Linked DNA regions of Homo sapiens: regions 2, 3 and 4 are each linked to region 1. Evidence: fine-mapped expression QTL. A gene starts in region 1. Each other region holds a variant in brackets. All regions are shown on one strand. Distances are from middle to middle.

Region 1 (4,167 bases):
TAAGAATTCCAGGATTCTATATACTAATGTCCCTAATGTGGAAGTCCATTTTTATTTATTTATTTTTAGTACAATTGAAAAGTTATTGTCCTCCCCTGCCCCAGATCTTTAATACAGAAATGTAGATGATGGTGTAAAATCTTTACTAAAAAATATCAGTCTCTTACGTGGAGTAATTTCAACAGAGAGATGTTTCCTAACATGTTTTTACTATGTATGCTGTGTATTCATACTGAGGTATGTCTATTTTGATCTGAACAATTTCTATTGGAAAATAATCTATCTGATTAAAAAGTTACAGATCATATGAATTCAAACAATGTGTACGACGAGTTTTTCATTTATAAGGATTGTTTAAAGATGATTTGTTCATAATCACAAAATCATATAAAGCTAGAACCCTAGAAGGAAAATGTATGTATATCTTTTCTTCAATATCTCTTTGTATACATGTGAGTGACTAAACAAGTTTTCTAAGGAAATTTTTGAAAGTGTTCACCTTAGACTTGGAGCAAGAATAATAGATACATTTTACCTTTAAAAGGCATTGTCCTGCTAATATTATATGAAATAAGTAGATAGATGTCTGCTTTGTGCTAAAATACACTTTGCCAAAAGATGGAGTTGGCTATGTTGATATTCACCTAGTGAGTATCATAGCTCTAGGGGCAGGACAAGTTAGAACAAGTTCTTAGTTTAAGCAGCCAGATATATGGATTAGATTTTTCATAAGAAAATGCTAGAGAGAAATGATATGATTTAGGGTTAAACAATATGACAGTTTGTCTGGGTTGTGTTTCTATGGTTTTGACTCAACAATTCCTACCAGAGGAACGAATCTCCAGAACTTTGGAAACTTACCCACAGGATGAGGGGACAGAATGACCAGTCATGGTTCCCTGTGTACTCACCATGTGAATCAGACCTTTGCCCTATCTGGTTCTGCCTCCGGTATTTTGCTTGTTATTTTCAACGCTAACTACAGACAAGAGAAAAAACTCCCAAGCATGAACCCAGCATGCTACAAGAAAGCCAACAACCAAGTCTGCATTCTACTCATGAGCAGGCAAGATTAGTGTTAGAAGGACTGTTATTTTCCTTGGGGTTTTAGCTTACGGCAGTTCCCAAAGGGTGTGGGTGTGACCTAGATTATCACTTTGAAGTACGATATTTAAAATGATTATTTTTGAGAAGGAGGGATCTCTTCTTATTATAAGACCAAGATGGTATGTAATACCCTCCAAAATAACCCAGTTACAATGAGAGTTTTAAAAAGGTTAATATTATACACTAAAAGATCTCAAAATATTACATTATTTTTTGGCAGATTACTTTGGTTTTGTAATTGTAAAAGAGGAACACATCTTTCATAATGAAGTGTGATGTAAGGAAAAAAAGTGAGTCACACTAGCAGGTTTACCATTTAAAAAATAACTAACTGGAAATATTGAATAGACTGTATGATTTAGTTAATTTCTGAGAAGTCTTATTTTTAACATTTCAATTAGAAAAAATAGTTTGCAACTCAAGGATAGTATTTTATCTGAATTAAACCTCCTCTCAGTTACATATGCCTTTAAGTAGCCAAGGTAAACCATATCCCAGGACATGATGAACAGAGAGAAAAAAAAATGAAGAGTCACATTCAATAGGATAAATAAGTCAAATATGAAGCAGAAAAAAGGTGAAAGTACAAAAACATACAAGAACTGATGATATTTTGAAAGTCATTTATAAGGCAGCAATAAAATTATATGACAAAAAGCACAAGGTGTTCATTTTTAGTTTTAGAAGATGAAGCTATGTAGACAATGGAATAAATAATATGTAACTAGGAGTCTCATAAAAATACTATACAACTAAAAATCTGGAACAGGAGTTTGCAGGAAGGGCTAATGAGGGAGCAAGTGCCTGGTGCCTTTGAATTAACCAATATATAAGCCAACACAAACATACTAACAAAACTGTATTGAAAATAAACTTGAAAAGAAGGTAGCATCTAACCAATCAAATAGGGTGCTTTCTAAACCCTCAGAATGATAAACTACATTGTTGGATGCAAAATTAGCATTTGCCCAGTTTATTTAATTCAGTATACTCTCCTATTAGTTATATTTACTTACCTGAAGTTAAAAAAAAAAAAAGCCATGACATTGCAAAGGGAATGTTCTCTAAAAGAAATAGATTTTCCTCTCTAGAGAAGCCCACCCGGACTCCACACCTGAGTTACCTTGAGTTTGTGGGCTCAGGTCGGTAGCTCCAACTGATGCCCTGAGCAGCCACGTAGAACTGCCTTAGCTGTGCCGCTTCTGTCCCTTGGCTCCCCCAGCCTACCCAGCTGGTGCCCAAGACCACCAGGACCCAGAGGCGTGGGCAGCCTGGGAACATGCTTCCTTTCCTGCTCCCGCTGGCTGCCACCACCCCAGGACCTGGGCAGCGCTTGCCGAGCTGCTAACCACACTCCGGGCTGTCCCAGCTGCAATGAGCTCTAGAGGCTGTGGGTGGCAGCGTCCTCCTCCCCTGCAGTTCTTGCAAACGGCAGCAGCAGCCTCTGGCTCTCACTCCCTCCGCTTTTTCTGGGGCTTTTCCTGGCAGGGGTTTGGTGAGATCACAGCTCCCAGTGACCAGAGGTATTAGGGAGAGCAACCAAACTAGTGACTGTTTTACTGCAGGTGAAGAAGGGGCAGAGATCAGAGGCTCTAGCAGGCGGGACAATGCCCAGGGATTCATGAGCCGGACAAAGCTGTATCCCTCCATTTCCACCTGCCAACACCACGGAAGCAGTCGTCCGTTACCACTGACCTGAGGCCTGCCTGGGTCCAAGCTCACACTTGGAGAACCTTCTGTGCAGTGCAGTGGCACCCAACCACCTTAAGCAGATGGCTCCCCTTTTAATCTGAGGAAAAGAGTATTGTGCCCTGTTACTGGGCACTGAAACACTATTTTCAAGTGGTGAAGAAGCAGGGAACAAACACATGGACAAGGCCTACTGCTCTGAATCGCCTTCCTGGCCTCTATCAAGGCACAGTTCTGCCTTGATAAGGGCCTGTCGCCAGCTAAGCTGCAGCATAGCAGCGGGCTTGAAGAGCTTGGCTGAAAAAAATCAGTTGTCCAGATTTCAGTTTCACTTACTAGCTGTGTTGTCTTGGGCAAGTTACTGTACCTCTCTGTTCAGTTTTGACATCTGTGAAATAAGGATGACAATAATAATTTTTCCTGATAGGGTATGTTGGGAGGATAAAATGCTACTGTAAACTATAGTTCCAGCACTTAACACACAGAGGCTAGGCGCAGTGGCTCACGCCTGTAATCCCAGTACTTTGGGAGGCCAAGGCGGGTGAATCACCTGAGGTCAGGAGTTCAAGACCAGCCTGGCCAACATGGTGAAACCCTTCTCTACTAAAAATATAAAAAATTAGCCGGGCGTTGTGGTGGACACCTGTAATCCCACCTACTCGAGAGATTGAGGCAAGAGAATTGCTTGAACCTGGAAGGTGGAGTTTGCAGTGAGCTGATATCATGCCATTTTACTCCAGCCTGGGCAACGAGAGCAAAACTCCATCAAAAAAAAAAAAGAAAGAAAGAAAAAGAAAGAAAGAGAAAAAGAGAGAAAGAAGGAATCACAAATTTATTATTATGATCATATTTTCCTGTCTCCAGGACCCCTTGTATTCTTGTTTTTCTTGAAGGATCTGACTGTTTCACAGCACCTTAAATCTTACTTTGCTATTGATAGAGAATCTGCGAATTATATTGTCTGAGGCATCATAATGACTTGTCCTGGGTTCCCTGTATCTGCATGGCTCCAGGTTTCTGTCTTATGCTTTATGCATTCAGTACATTCAATAAATTGTAATCTGGCACCTCACATGAGGTCTCTGTTAATGATATCAGGCTCATCAACAGCCTCTTCCTCCCTCCCCACTCCCCCCAATATTCTGTCTTTTCTCCTGTGCTGATATTATTGCACCAACTTAGAATGCCCATTTTCTTCCTCTTTGCTGGGCCATTCTTTACAGTCCAGAGTTCTGCCTATCTCCCAGATTCTGGGCTCAAATTGGCTTTTCCATTTTATGAACTATTACAACACTATTCAAATTATATAATCATGTTAATTACCTTTTGTTATTCCATGCAGGTATCTATTGTCTCCCTAACTGAACAGTT
Region 2 (4,167 bases), 26 kb before region 1:
TGGGAAAATGCTCATTTGCTCTGTGGGGAGACTCCATCCTTGGCTTTTAGGTTTCTGTTTTACATCTCAGATACATAATCACTAGATACTAGATAATGGGCCTGAGAATCAGTTCCTTACCCACACAAAGGCTTGTTTTTTTTAGGAGACCATTGCAACAAAGCCAGGATTCCTTGCATCACTAGGAGGCTTTGGTGGAAGCGTTTATCCATGCCAAAGAAATGCTTATATTGAGTTCAGCAATTAACATATCTGTGTTAGCATTTATCATATGTATTCAATTTATTCTGCTTTATAAGGCAGAGGGTTTTTACAAATGTTTACTATTCTTAGTTTCTACTGATGGTCTTTCCCTACCTTGTCCCATTTACCCCCAATTATTCTTTTGGGAACTATAAATTCGTAAACTCTAAGCTCAGATCAATTTATTTTTATTTTTGTGCATATGGTTTTGCTTTTCTTGGCATCCATATACTTATACAGATTGTTCACTCTGCCAGGAAATAGATGTTAGGATAAATGGTTAGTCCACTTTTGTAAGTAAGCACATTGAGACAACTAATTTATCCAGGGCCACAGAAGGTAGTCTGATAATCTGAAGTCTGAACTCAGATTATCTAAGGTCGAGGTCAGTTAACTAAGCCCCAGTTTTTACAAGCTCCTAGTATTGGAACTTGGGATCAACATTGAGAGTCATATGAGTATATTTTCAGAAAACCAAGTGGAAAATGTAGTCAAATGAAATAGAATACAATTTAAAAACACTACCCAGATCTCAACTCTTAACAATATTTGTGTTTTAGTAAGTGAAGCTATTTGTGATTTTCAGATGGCATTAGAGAATAACCTCTAAGAAGTTTAGTGTTTTGAAATATGGTTTATTTAGTAAAGTGGCATTTTAATTTTTTAATGTTTTTCCCTCAGGCTAGTATCATATACCCTGGATCTTTAGTTGTAGGTCAGTTCTACCAGAGAGAAATAGAAGAGATGTGGTCTAAGTGGGAATTAGTTATTTTTTCTCTTAACGATTGCTATGATTTTGCCTTCTCATAAGTGCCCAAATGCAAATGGAAAGAGAAAATATTCTAGATGCCACTGAATATTACTCTTCTGTCACCTTTTGAAATGCTGGTTTTTTTTGTGTGTTGAGGATTACTCCTAATCTGTTCATCTTTACTGCAATCTTCCTGCTGATCCTTCCTGCTAGGGCTTGTCCTTGAAGAAGCCATGGTCATCATATAGAGGAACTGCAGAACTCGGAGAGAGTGGCTGAGCTGATACCTTAAGGTCTTATTCAAAGTACAGGCCAAGGTGAAACCTACTCAGGTCACTATACCTAACAAGGCTGCACATTTCTTCTCTAGCTTCTAATTTGTCTCTTCTATTTCCTGTTTAAAAAAAAAAAGAGAAAATATTTCCTTCTTGATAGGGAGTTGCAAAACAGTGAGTATGGTCAACTTCTCTAGTGCTTTGAAGAAAACAGGACCGAAAAATTACTAATGATTTTACTGTTGTTTAATGGTACACAGCCCTCGTGTTACCTGGCATTGTCCCATTCACATATCCATTGACTGTGTACATTAGGGATGATGACTGGCTCCAGCTCTTGCTTTCATCAAACACAGCAAATAGTAGCACGATTTGCTTGTCAAACGTCTTCTGTGTCCCACCCTCAGTTAGGGTCCCTATGAAAGGAAAGACATGTTTTCAGTAGCACTGCAGATAGAAGACGCTCATTAGCTTTCCTGGATAGCAAAGAGTTTAGGGCAAGCAATCAACCATAATGATTTCAACTTGAAGAAATTCTTATTTTTTAAAATAGCATATTTATCAAGTAATAATGGTTCTAGGGTTATTTAAAATCTGGTGCCACACTGTCTTCTTTGATACCTTCTTGCTTTGGGGAACAGGCTTTATTTCATCCAGCTTGGGAAGAAAACATTTGGTGACTCTCAAGACTCTGTACAAGTATCCATTTCCCCCAGTCTCAATAGAAGAGTATATAGATACGTTAGCTCAGTTGGTAAAAGCATCATGCCCCAAGTTTAATGCTGTCATCTTATTTGTATATGAAAGGGGGCATTAGATAATTGGGTGGAAGTATCAGCATTAATCCATTCTCACTATGAGAAAAACATGCTGCTGATGGTAAAATGCAAGAAGAGTCTTTTGTAAGTTTTA[A/C]GGTTTTTTTCAGTACCATCACAGTATCTTATATATACCAGGAAATGGAAAAAAAGTCTTTGTATAATGAGTAAATACATTGGGCATGTATGTAGGTATGGCCTGAGCGTGTATGTATAGGCAGATGGTGAGTCCATCACGTTATTTCCCATGCTGTGGCTCACTGTGGTTGTTTGTTTTAATGAAAGATGGGCTGGATTCTCATGGGATAAAATGAAAATCCAAGCTTGCTCCTAAGAAGCCCAGCCAATAAAAGTTCTTGTAAAGTCACTTGAGTGTGTTTGAAACCTACCACCCAAAGTTTTCAACTTGTTTGTAAGAAAGGAAGCTGGCATTTCACGTGTTTATAGAGCAAATTACCAGCCCAAACCTCAGATATGTCAAACATGTTAGCCAAAGTTCTTTCCAAGAGCTCTTTCAGCAGAGTATAGGCTACTGTATACTTTCTAAAAGACTTTGGCCTTGAGGTAAATGTTACAGATCATACAAGCATGACATCAGAACATACTCTCAAACAGGAATTTGCCTGGGAGAACCTTAAGGACTGAGATGAAGGAGGAATGAGAAGAAACAGAGGTGGATCCACACCCTGAAATAGCAGGTGTTTTTTTCTCTTGTCAAACAATGATCTGGTCTCCGTGCCGTCTTCCTCTGCTTGATGTACAAGAAGTTACCAAGATGCTCCCAAGCTTTGTCCCATGACAGAACTCCTGACCATTCCAACATTTAGTTGTTGAATCTTTTGGTGGGGGTGTTCTTACCTTTTTTACAGATAAGCAGGGGCCCAATCAGCCCCGAGTTGAAATCCTCGATCAGATTTTCATGGGAGTAATAGATGTGTGTGAGGCATGGAGGGTCATCATGGGTGGGTCCACTGTCCTCACTGATACTCCATTCATAGGTGTATTCTCGGCCTGGAGCCACAGCGTCGTCCATCTTCTCCGCAGGGAATGTGTGGTCAAGGTAAGAAGCACCTGGAGGAGTAACAGCCATCAAGACATGTGGGCAGTTTCTGAGGATTGCGTTTTCACCACTCTCAAATCTGGGGATAGCTAAGATGAGTTCTCTGGAGATGCATATGTCCTTCAATAGTGAACTTTTATTATTTGGAAAGATTCACATATGCCCATTTCTATGCTCATGTACTTACAAAGGCTTTGATAACATGGTGATCTTAAGAATAACAAATGTTATTTGTAAATTAAAGTTTAGCAAGTTAATTTTCCAGGGTACCTGAACAATTATTATTTAAATATAATCAGAGAATTGAATCGCCTTTGATTAGTAAACCATCTCAGAATATAAGAATGGGTGATATCTTCTTTGTGGTGTTTAATAAGACATACTTAGCCTATTAACATGAGATGGGAGGATAGTCAGAGCTGTTTATGTATTATTTTGTTTTGCTATTTCAGATCTTCTTTCCAACTGCTGTGATCCTCAGCTTTGTTTTATCTCTTTATTTCATCTTAGCCATCTGATTATCTCAATTTTTTCCCCCGAGCCACAGCGTCTAACTCCCCTATGCAGGCTGGTTGTCTGTATGAATATGAAATGTGTCCATCCCCTGAAACTTAGATGTCTTACTTTGTACTTTGTGCACCCAAAGACACATCATTAACACCTCCATGTATATTGGACTTTCCCTACTGATAGGAGAGGGAGAGGATGAAGAAATTGGTCTTCTTTATTGAAGAGAAGGAACTGAGATACTCAATATTAAAAGAAGTGTAGAGGGTTGGGTGAGGTTTTCAATAATAAAATGGAGCAAGTGAGGTCAGGAAGGGGAGAGGTGAGTGCCATAGAGAGCCAAGTGGAATGAACAGTTTCCTCTGCCTGAGGAATTCCTCATTTAATTAGGTGAAAGATTCCCTATCATCAGCTGGTGACAGAATTTCTCTTTGGGATGCAGTTATTTTTGTTTGGTACAATAACTTGATAAATTCTTTACGAGAAGAAGGTGAGAACATCAGTGTGGATGTAGGC
Region 3 (4,167 bases), 44 kb before region 1:
TTTGTAGGGGTCATCATAGGGCACATAATCAATTTCAGCATAGTCATCTTCACTGCTCTGGACCTCTTCCTTTGGAATGATCTCAATGTAATCTGTACCATCTTTACTGAGGCCCACTATAACCAGTGGATTAAATTCCTTTGATAGAAAAGTATCATTGAGAGTAGGAGATGAAGGAGATGGCATCTGACCAAGGTCTGGATAAGGAAAAGACTCATTAAATTCTTGAAGAAGCAATGACTGACTAGATTCAGAAGGGTAGAATATCTGATCAAGGTCTGGAGGAGGTGATATCTGGCTGAGATCCGGGAGAAGGGTGGTGTCACTGATGTCTGGAGAGAGAGTCACCTGGCTGAGGTCTGGGGAAAGGGACATCTGACCAAAGTTTGGGGAAAGATCTGTCTCACCAAGGTCTGGAGAAAGTGTCATCTGGTCGAGGTCTGGGGTAAGGGGAATTTGACTGAGATCTGCAAAGAGGGGCATCTCACTGAGGTCTGGGGAAAGGTTTGTCTGACTGAGTTCTGGAGAGAGGTTTGTCTGGCTGAGGTCTAGAGAAAGGGTTGTATGGCTGGGGTCTGGAGAAAGGGGCATCTGACCGAGGGCTGGGGAAAGGTTTGTTTGACTGAGTTCTGGAGAGAGGTTTGTCTGGCTGAAGTCTAGAGAAAGGGTTGTATGGCTGAGGTCTGGAGAAATGGGCATCTGACCGAGGGCTGGGGAAAGGTTTGTCTGACTGAGTTCTGGAGAGAGAGTCATATGGCTGAGTTCTGGAGAGAGGTTTGTCTGGCTGAAGTCTAGAGAAAGGGTTGTATGGCTGAGGTCTGGAGAAAGGGGCATCTGACCGAGGGCTGGAGAAAGGTTTGTCTGACTGAGTTCTGGAGAGAGGTTTGTCTGGCTGAGGTCTAAAGAAAGGGTTGTATGGCTGAGGTCTGGAGAAAGGGTTGTATGGCTGAGGTCTGGAGAAATGGGCATCTGACCGAGGGCTGGGGAAAGGTTTCTCTGAATGAGTTCTGGAGAGAGAGTCGTGTGGCTGAGGTCTGGAGAGAGGTTTGTCTGGCTGAGTTCTGGAGAGAGGGTCACCTGGCTGAGGTCTGGAGAGATGACTGTCTGCCAGACTTCATGTTCTGAGGAAGGGGACATTTGACTTATATCTGTGGGGAAGGACTTGTGACTTCGGTCATACTCAAGCATTTCACTGAGCTCTGGAGAAGAGGATCTGTGACTGGGGTCTGAAGTAGAGTGCATTTGATCAGGGTCTTGAATGGGGAATGTTTGATAGTGTTCCTCTGGGGGCACTGTCTGATAAAGACCTGGAGGACAGCTTGCCTGACCAGTGTCATTTGAGGAATTCTGATTATGGTCAGGAAGTGAGGCTATCCAGCCAAAATCCATAGAGGGCAATGTCTGATTGAGGTCTGTGGGAAGAGATGTTTCATTGGATTTATGAAGCACCAACGAATGCTTAAGTCTTCTTTCTGAAAATGTGTTGTAGGCTTCACTTCTTAGAGGGTGAAAGGTCCTCGGAGATAAAGGAGCATGGTGTGTGTGCTTCTCTTTTTTCTTTTTTCGTGTCTTAATGAGAAACTGGCTTTTCTTCAGTCTACTCTTTCCTCCATCCTGTCTTACTTGTAGAGATTTATGTCTAACTCTAGGAAACTTTGGGTGGCCACTCTGCTTTCCAGGCTTGTTGGCAAGAGGGGTGCTTTCTCCCCAAGCACGTGAGGCATTCTGGGGGCTGATCAGCCAATTGTTAACAGCTGTGTCTTCATCAGTATCTTGGATTATTTCATAGCTACCTTTCTCAGAAGCCAAATGCCATCTCCCAACCAAAATCTTAGATGAGTTACTTTGTTTTAAGAGTAACAGATCACTAGGAGGGTCCT[T/C]CCAGGGCCTCATTCTGGAAGGAGAACCAGTGTCTTGGCTAGGAAGGTCCTCCCAGGGCCTCATTCCGGAAGGAGAACCAGTGTCTTGGCTTAGGTGTCTCCCAACTTTATGTGCTAGTAATTTCATCCAGGAGAACCTGTGCTTTGCTGCTTGATCTCTTTCTACCTTGGGTCCCTTATGCTTAGCATGTTCTTGACTTTTGAATTCTCCAGCACCAAGTGAAAGTAGACGTATCCCTGTGACATCTGGCTGTAGAGGATCCTCTATAGGGTCTTCAGAATATGGGCTGGAATGCTCTGCTGTGGAAGAATTGAGAACTGAGTTCTTGCCAATGAGGTGTCTCAGTGGGGAACCAGCTGTGGTGGCTTGTTGGTGAGAAGGGGCTTTCTGAGGTTCTGCAAGGTTATTGACAGTGAACTTACTAATATTACTTGGGGAAGAATAATTTGAACCAACAATTATATCTGTGTTTGAAGAAACGAATTCAGTGCCATTCTCCAGAGCTAGGGCAGTAAGATTGAACTCTTCTTCTTCCTGATTCAATGATGAGTTTCGGAATGACCTGATTCCTAATGCTGCAGCCAGTCTGTTCTGGTAATCATAGTCAGCATCACTCTCTTCATCTTCAGGTTCTAAACGATCATGCATTTTCCGTGTAGCCATGACTGTAGATTCTGGAGGTTCAAAAATCTCATATGAGTCTTCATCATCATCTGGGATACATTTAACATCCCTGAATTTCAGCCTCAGCTTTTTGCTTCTTGGACTAGAATTCATGGAAGTTAACATCCAAGTTCCTACAGAAGAGAGACAGACAGAAGAGAGATCTGGAAGTCTGGGAAAAGACATGAAAACACAATAATCCATTGTGGCAGGTAATTTCTAATAAACTTTCGTCAGGAATATTCAAGTATGGGCTGTGGACCACTGCTTGTCTGTGACCTATTGATTACTGGGTCAAAATAACACAAGGAGAGAAAAATGAGAATGAAATATTTAGTAAACTTTTGTTTTTCTAAAGCAATTTGACATTGCTGTGACTCTAAGCACATGACCAGTGCGTTCATCTCGCTTAACAGAATAAAAAACAAAAGTGTTGCTTAGTGGAGATTAGAGGGGAAAAAAGGTCTTTCAGCACAGATAGTTGCTCACTATTTTAAAATATATTAAGAAAGGGATGAATCAAGAATAAAATGGACTTTTAATATCATAAATATCCTAACAGCACATCTTGTCTTAGAATTAAAGGGATGGTGATGAGCTCTATCCCCACAAATAAGAGACATTTAGATGTTTCTAAGTAATAATTCACGAGGACAATTTTGAATCTCTGAAATGGCATGCATTGCTGGAACATCAAAGATTTCTTGGTGAGTCTCCAATAGTTACCATTGTTGGTGTCTACTGAGTGCTAGGCACTTGGCGCATATTACTATTTTAATGGTCAAAGTAACTCTGTGAGATGTGATTACACTGTTTTCCAGATAAATGACTTGTGGCTCAGTGTGGCCAAGTAACTTGTGTAAGGTTACACAGCAATCGATTGGCAGATCAGGACTTGCATTCCAGTCTGACAAACTCCAAAGCTGTTGCTGAAGCAGCCTTTAAGGCACTGTACCTGATGATTGAAGATGACTGTTGCAAAAAACCGAATAGGGCATTTTGATAAAAGAAATGCTCTTTTGTGGCCAAAATATTTATGCTTCTTCCTCAGAGTTATGCCTTATTTTTCTGCTGTTGTATATTTTTACTTCCTACTTTGCCCAGAGAAGGAAAAATATAACCCACACTAAAGAACTGGATCCATTTAAGTCATTAATTTCTCAAAGAGAAATCATGAGAAACATTGAAAGAAAAGCCTGCAGGGGGTCAGGGAGATACATAGAGGAGCACTGGTAGCCTGGAGAGTTGCAGCAGACCTTTATAGACCAGAAATTCAAAGCAAGCTTCCTCTGTGAGTGTCCAGACTCTTACTCACCAACATTATCCATTGTGACCGTCACAGATTCTCCACGCATGGGGAAGAGGGTCAAGGTGTCCTCATGCCTCTTTCCATAGATGAATGAGTGCCCAGTGAAGTGGATGGTCAAAATTTCATTCTGGGTCCCCACACTACAGAAGTGCCACTGGACAGTGTCATCAAAGCAGAATCCAAGAGTAGTTATGCTCTCAGGCACATAGCCATTGATAGCTGAAAGTGTAAAATCTGTTAAAATTCCAAGTCTATGCCAACAAAAGGGCATGTGTCTAATTATACCTAAGATAAATGTCTCCATGTTAATTTGG
Region 4 (4,167 bases), 56 kb before region 1:
TGCTGTTTATTGCCATTTTCCAGCAAGGTCTGGCCGTGAAAGTGAACCACGTGAATGTCTTGGGAGCCGCCTATGTTCAGCAGGTGTAACCTCACCCACTCTTGCTCATACATTTTCAGGCCAGGCAAGCTGTAGATCATCCCATTAATGGCTGAAAGGACAAAGAGTTGAAATCAATTAAAAATCTGTTGACACAGAGAGGGCGAGTGGTAAGGAAATATGGGGCAACCCACTCAACACCCATGTTCCTCATGATTCTGCATTCCCAGGCCTACCTAGCCATGGAAAGGGCCCTCTTGTATGTCACATTAGTGAGAGGCTAAAGCAGAACCACTAGTCCTTCTCATATCATTCACACCAGCCTACAGCAGAAGGCAGGGGGAACTCCCTTTCCAAGCAGTTTATCACTCTTTTCCTCAGCTTTTACAGTTCCGTGCTTTACCCGTGTATACTTTCCATTAACAGTCTTAATTTTCCTTAACTACAAAAGATAAATACAAATATGGGCAGACAAAGTAAACTCCAGGGATTAGAGTCAGCAAGGAGATATGCAGCATGTCACCTTAAGGCCTTCTAAATTCAGAGAAAGTTTCAGGCAAATTAGGAAGTCTAGGAGTTTATAAAATTAGGAGTTTATCGTTGGTGTATCCAGCAACCATAGCAAGTCATGTTTATTCTCTTATTGGTATGACAACTCCTCTGCCCACTTCTCAGATTAGATAACTAGGGTTCTCAGGCTTTATCTACTCTCCCCACAGTAAAATACGCGGATTTTTTAAAAAGTTCCTGAGAAACTTGATCACCTTAAAAATGTAACACAAAACTGTAAAGATAAAGTTTAGTGTTACCAAACGTTTAACTGAAACCAAAGTGAAGGAAGTGCTTTGTTTCCTCCTTCTTAAGTTAGAGGAACTGCTGTGAAATTTCAGAAACCAGGCAGGTGAATTTTTGGAGAGGGACGGGTTGAGATCATTTGGGCATCCTTCAAATTATATCAGGCGTGAGAACACCTATCTACATATTCATAACACAAGCTCGTACCTTTCTCTTCTCAGTTTCTGTTTCAGTTACTAGCTTACAGGGCAAATTTTCCTTGTGAATTTCCAAATAGGCACACTTTTCCCAGTGTGACCACCCAAATGCTCTCTTGCCACTATTCTCCTATTACCTGGGTACCTAGTTTCTTATCTCATTTTGTTCTCATATGCTTTGGGTGCCACCTGGTAGCTGCTGAGAGCTAAAACTGTTAGCGTCATTCTTATTTTAGAAAAGACACACAGGTGATCATTTCTTTTATATAAACACTTGTGCCTTTAGAGATCCAGAAACAAGCTTATTAACTTTAAATTGCAGAACAATGTTAATTCCTTTTCAATGTATGTTACCAGCTGAAGCACACTGGCTTTTTGTTGTTGTGGTTTTCTGTTGGTTTGTTTTGCAGCAGCTTCTCTGTGCTATCTTTCAGACTTTCTCTTTTTGCCTCACCCACAGTGTCACCTGCCAGATTACATCAGCCCTCTGGAATGTTAAGGAACCGGTTTTAGTTGTAGCTCTGGGTGTCTCAGAAGCATCTCATGTCTAATCTTGTGAATATCTAAGGGCAGAAATCACTGTGACCCAGTGTGATTTAATTAGGAGATTAGATCAAAGTCTGAGGAAAATACCGTGAAACTCATGGGATTTTTTCATTTCTGAGGATGTGAGTCTCCAAGAACTTCGGGACTTCTTTTCATAGTACCAGCTCTTCTTTTCATCAAAGGTCATAAATAGTAAGACAAATTCTCTCATGTCCA[T/C]AGGCATGTTGCTGTCCTTATGTAGTATTCCTTTTTGGCAGATTAGGAGGGGACCTATCAAGCCTGAGTGAATATCTTTTTCCTGGAAAAACAGAGTAAATTGTATTGCCTCTTTCTCAGGAATTTCCTTGCTCTTCTGATAATCACTCATCATATAGAAAAGGAAACTTTCTGATAGGCTCTGAATTTGAAGATGAAGATTATAAATGAATGGCATAATAAGCCTGGATATTTATCACCTAATTCTGTTGTATTCATAATCCTCCTTCCTCTGATTGATCTTTATCCCAGTAACAATGATGATAATAATAAATTGATAATATAAGGGATACTATTTATTGAGAATCTATTACTATATTAAATGATTTGCCTGCAATCTCCCATTTAATCCTGACAACTATCTTATATGGTAAATATAAATTCATTCATTGAACAAATATTTACCAAGTGCTTACCATGCACTATGTACTGTTATCTCATTTTTAACTTCTGATACCAGGCTAAGAGAGGTCAAGGAATTTCCTAGGATTATGCATTGACAGGGTAAAAATTTAAATCTGAGTCTGTGCTCTTTCCACTATGCCTGAAATGGAGGAGTTGTTTCTCTTTTTAATTGACAGATAAAATTGTATGCATATACTGTGTATGACATATTGTTTTGAAGTATATATACATTGCAGAATGTCAGATAAAGGAGTCTTGACTTTGCAGTTCTTTTCATAAAGAAAGAGCAGAACATAGCTAATACTTGTTCAAGAAAATTTCAAATAAATGCCATCTTCTGTAAATGTAGGCATTCTAATTCATGGCCAATCATTCAAGTAATCTTTCCTCCTCTCCACTGAATAAATGTTTCTCTCTCTGTCATCTGAAGAGCTGCATGGAGAGTCCCTGGTTATGATAAATGCAGACTGTTAACCACACCCTTATGCATTCCTCATGAAAAGCAAGACAGACATTTGACAAGAAATAACCCCGACTCTTCCATTTGGTGGACTTCAGATTACGAGGTTAGGGGAATGAGAAAAACTTTCAATGAAAGTACCTACTGGGTTCACAGCTGAGTAGTAGGCCCAAGCCCGACAGGCAGAGCCAGGACTTTCTGGCCCTGATCGCTCAGTGGCATGCCATACGTAGGTATAACTGCTATTTGGCTGAACAGCATTATCTTCCTTAAACCATTCAGGAGAGTCATCTTCATAAGTCTTTCCCTCTGATGATTTTTCATAGGAAAGTCCATGGGCATGTAGAGAATACGGTCTGGATGCTAAATTTTTAAAACGAACCTAGGAAAAGGAATGATCCACAAATGTACTTAAGCTTAACAAAAATCTAAACCACAAAAATGTCAGCATTATAAGTCAAAATGGCTGGTTATAAAATCGGAGCTAAGATATAAGGTACAAAATAACTTATGTATATTATTTCATTTAATTTTCATAACCATCCTGTGAGATATGGCCCAAGTAGTTTTCTCCAGAAATACCAAAAGATATTTGTTCTTAGGCTCAAGGCTAAAGTACTGACATTATCTACTAATGAAATGAGAGTGATAGGTAGTGGAGATGTGAAGATGAAAGAAGCTTGATTCTTGTTCATAAGAAGCTTTTAAGCTCCTGCTGAAACAGACATGCACATGGGCATCCACACTACAAATCTGGAGACAACAGGTGCTATATACAAAGTCTAAGTGGGTTCAGATGACAATGCCCTGGAGGAACAATTTGGTTGAATATTTAGGAGTGGTTGGAAGAATTAAGGTAAGTTTCTTAGAGGAAATGGAATTGGCCATCATAGAATGAACAGGAGCTAGAAAGACATTTCAGACTCTCAGAAGGGCAGAAGGATGCCTGTGAGCAGGGGAGTAAAGGAAGAGTTTGGGGAATAGCAAGGATCTCGGTGGAACTGGGCTGTGAAATGCACAGGGACAGGTGGAACCTGGTGAGAAATGAGGCTAGAAAAGGAGCAGGTTGGGGCCAGATGGTAAAGGACTTAAATGCCATATGAGAAGTCTTCACACCCCAGCAGTCAGACCCATGAAGCTCCTCCCAGCCCTTCTATAACTTCTAGTGATTAAAGACTCCCTAATTGTCTGTTCCTTATTTTATTCTACAAAGCCAGCATCACCCTAATAACAAAACCTGGCAAAGACACAATGAATAATGAAAACTACCGGCCAATATCTCTGATGTACATAGACACAAAAATCTTCAACAAAATATTGGCAAACCAAATCCAGCAGCAAATTAAAAATTAATTCATCACAATCACATAGGCTTCATTCCTAGGATGCAAAGTGGCTCCACATATGCAAATCAATAAATGTGATTCACCACATAAACCGCATTAAAAACAAAAACAGTATCATCATCTC

The links. PIP is the estimated chance that this variant, and not a neighbour inherited with it, causes the effect. A credible set is the group of variants that fine-mapping cannot tell apart.
Region 2: its variant is the best candidate, but not a certain one, in a credible set for the expression of F5 in whole blood (INTERVAL, PIP 0.58).
Region 3: its variant is the best candidate, but not a certain one, in a credible set for the expression of F5 in whole blood (INTERVAL, PIP 0.64).
Region 4: its variant is the best candidate, but not a certain one, in a credible set for the expression of F5 in blood mononuclear cells (TOPMed, PIP 0.57).

What each region holds. Positions count from the first base shown.
Region 1 is chr1:169,583,999-169,588,165 of GRCh38, forward strand. F5 (coagulation factor V) reads right to left here and starts at 2,483. Exons shown (of 25, transcript NM_000130.5): 1 at 2,231-2,483. The coding sequence starts at 2,388. RefSeq lists enhancers at 1,957-2,458, 2,459-2,958.
Region 2 is chr1:169,557,612-169,561,778 of GRCh38, forward strand. It overlaps F5 (coagulation factor V), which reads right to left. Exons shown (of 25, transcript NM_000130.5): 4 at 2,943-3,155; 5 at 1,542-1,685. Among named protein-coding and RNA genes, the nearest start is that of F5, 27 kb to the right of the region's middle. The variant A/C (reference allele first, on the strand shown) is at 2,182.
Region 3 is chr1:169,540,437-169,544,603 of GRCh38, forward strand. F5 (coagulation factor V) reads right to left here. Exons shown (of 25, transcript NM_000130.5): 12 at 3,860-4,072; 13 at 1-2,678. Among named protein-coding and RNA genes, the nearest start is that of F5, 44 kb to the right of the region's middle. The variant T/C (reference allele first, on the strand shown) is at 1,881.
Region 4 is chr1:169,527,944-169,532,110 of GRCh38, forward strand. F5 (coagulation factor V) reads right to left here. Exons shown (of 25, transcript NM_000130.5): 15 at 2,843-3,079; 16 at 1,665-1,875; 17 at 1-151. Among named protein-coding and RNA genes, the nearest start is that of SLC19A2, 44 kb to the left of the region's middle. RefSeq lists an enhancer at 3,663-3,832. The variant T/C (reference allele first, on the strand shown) is at 1,794.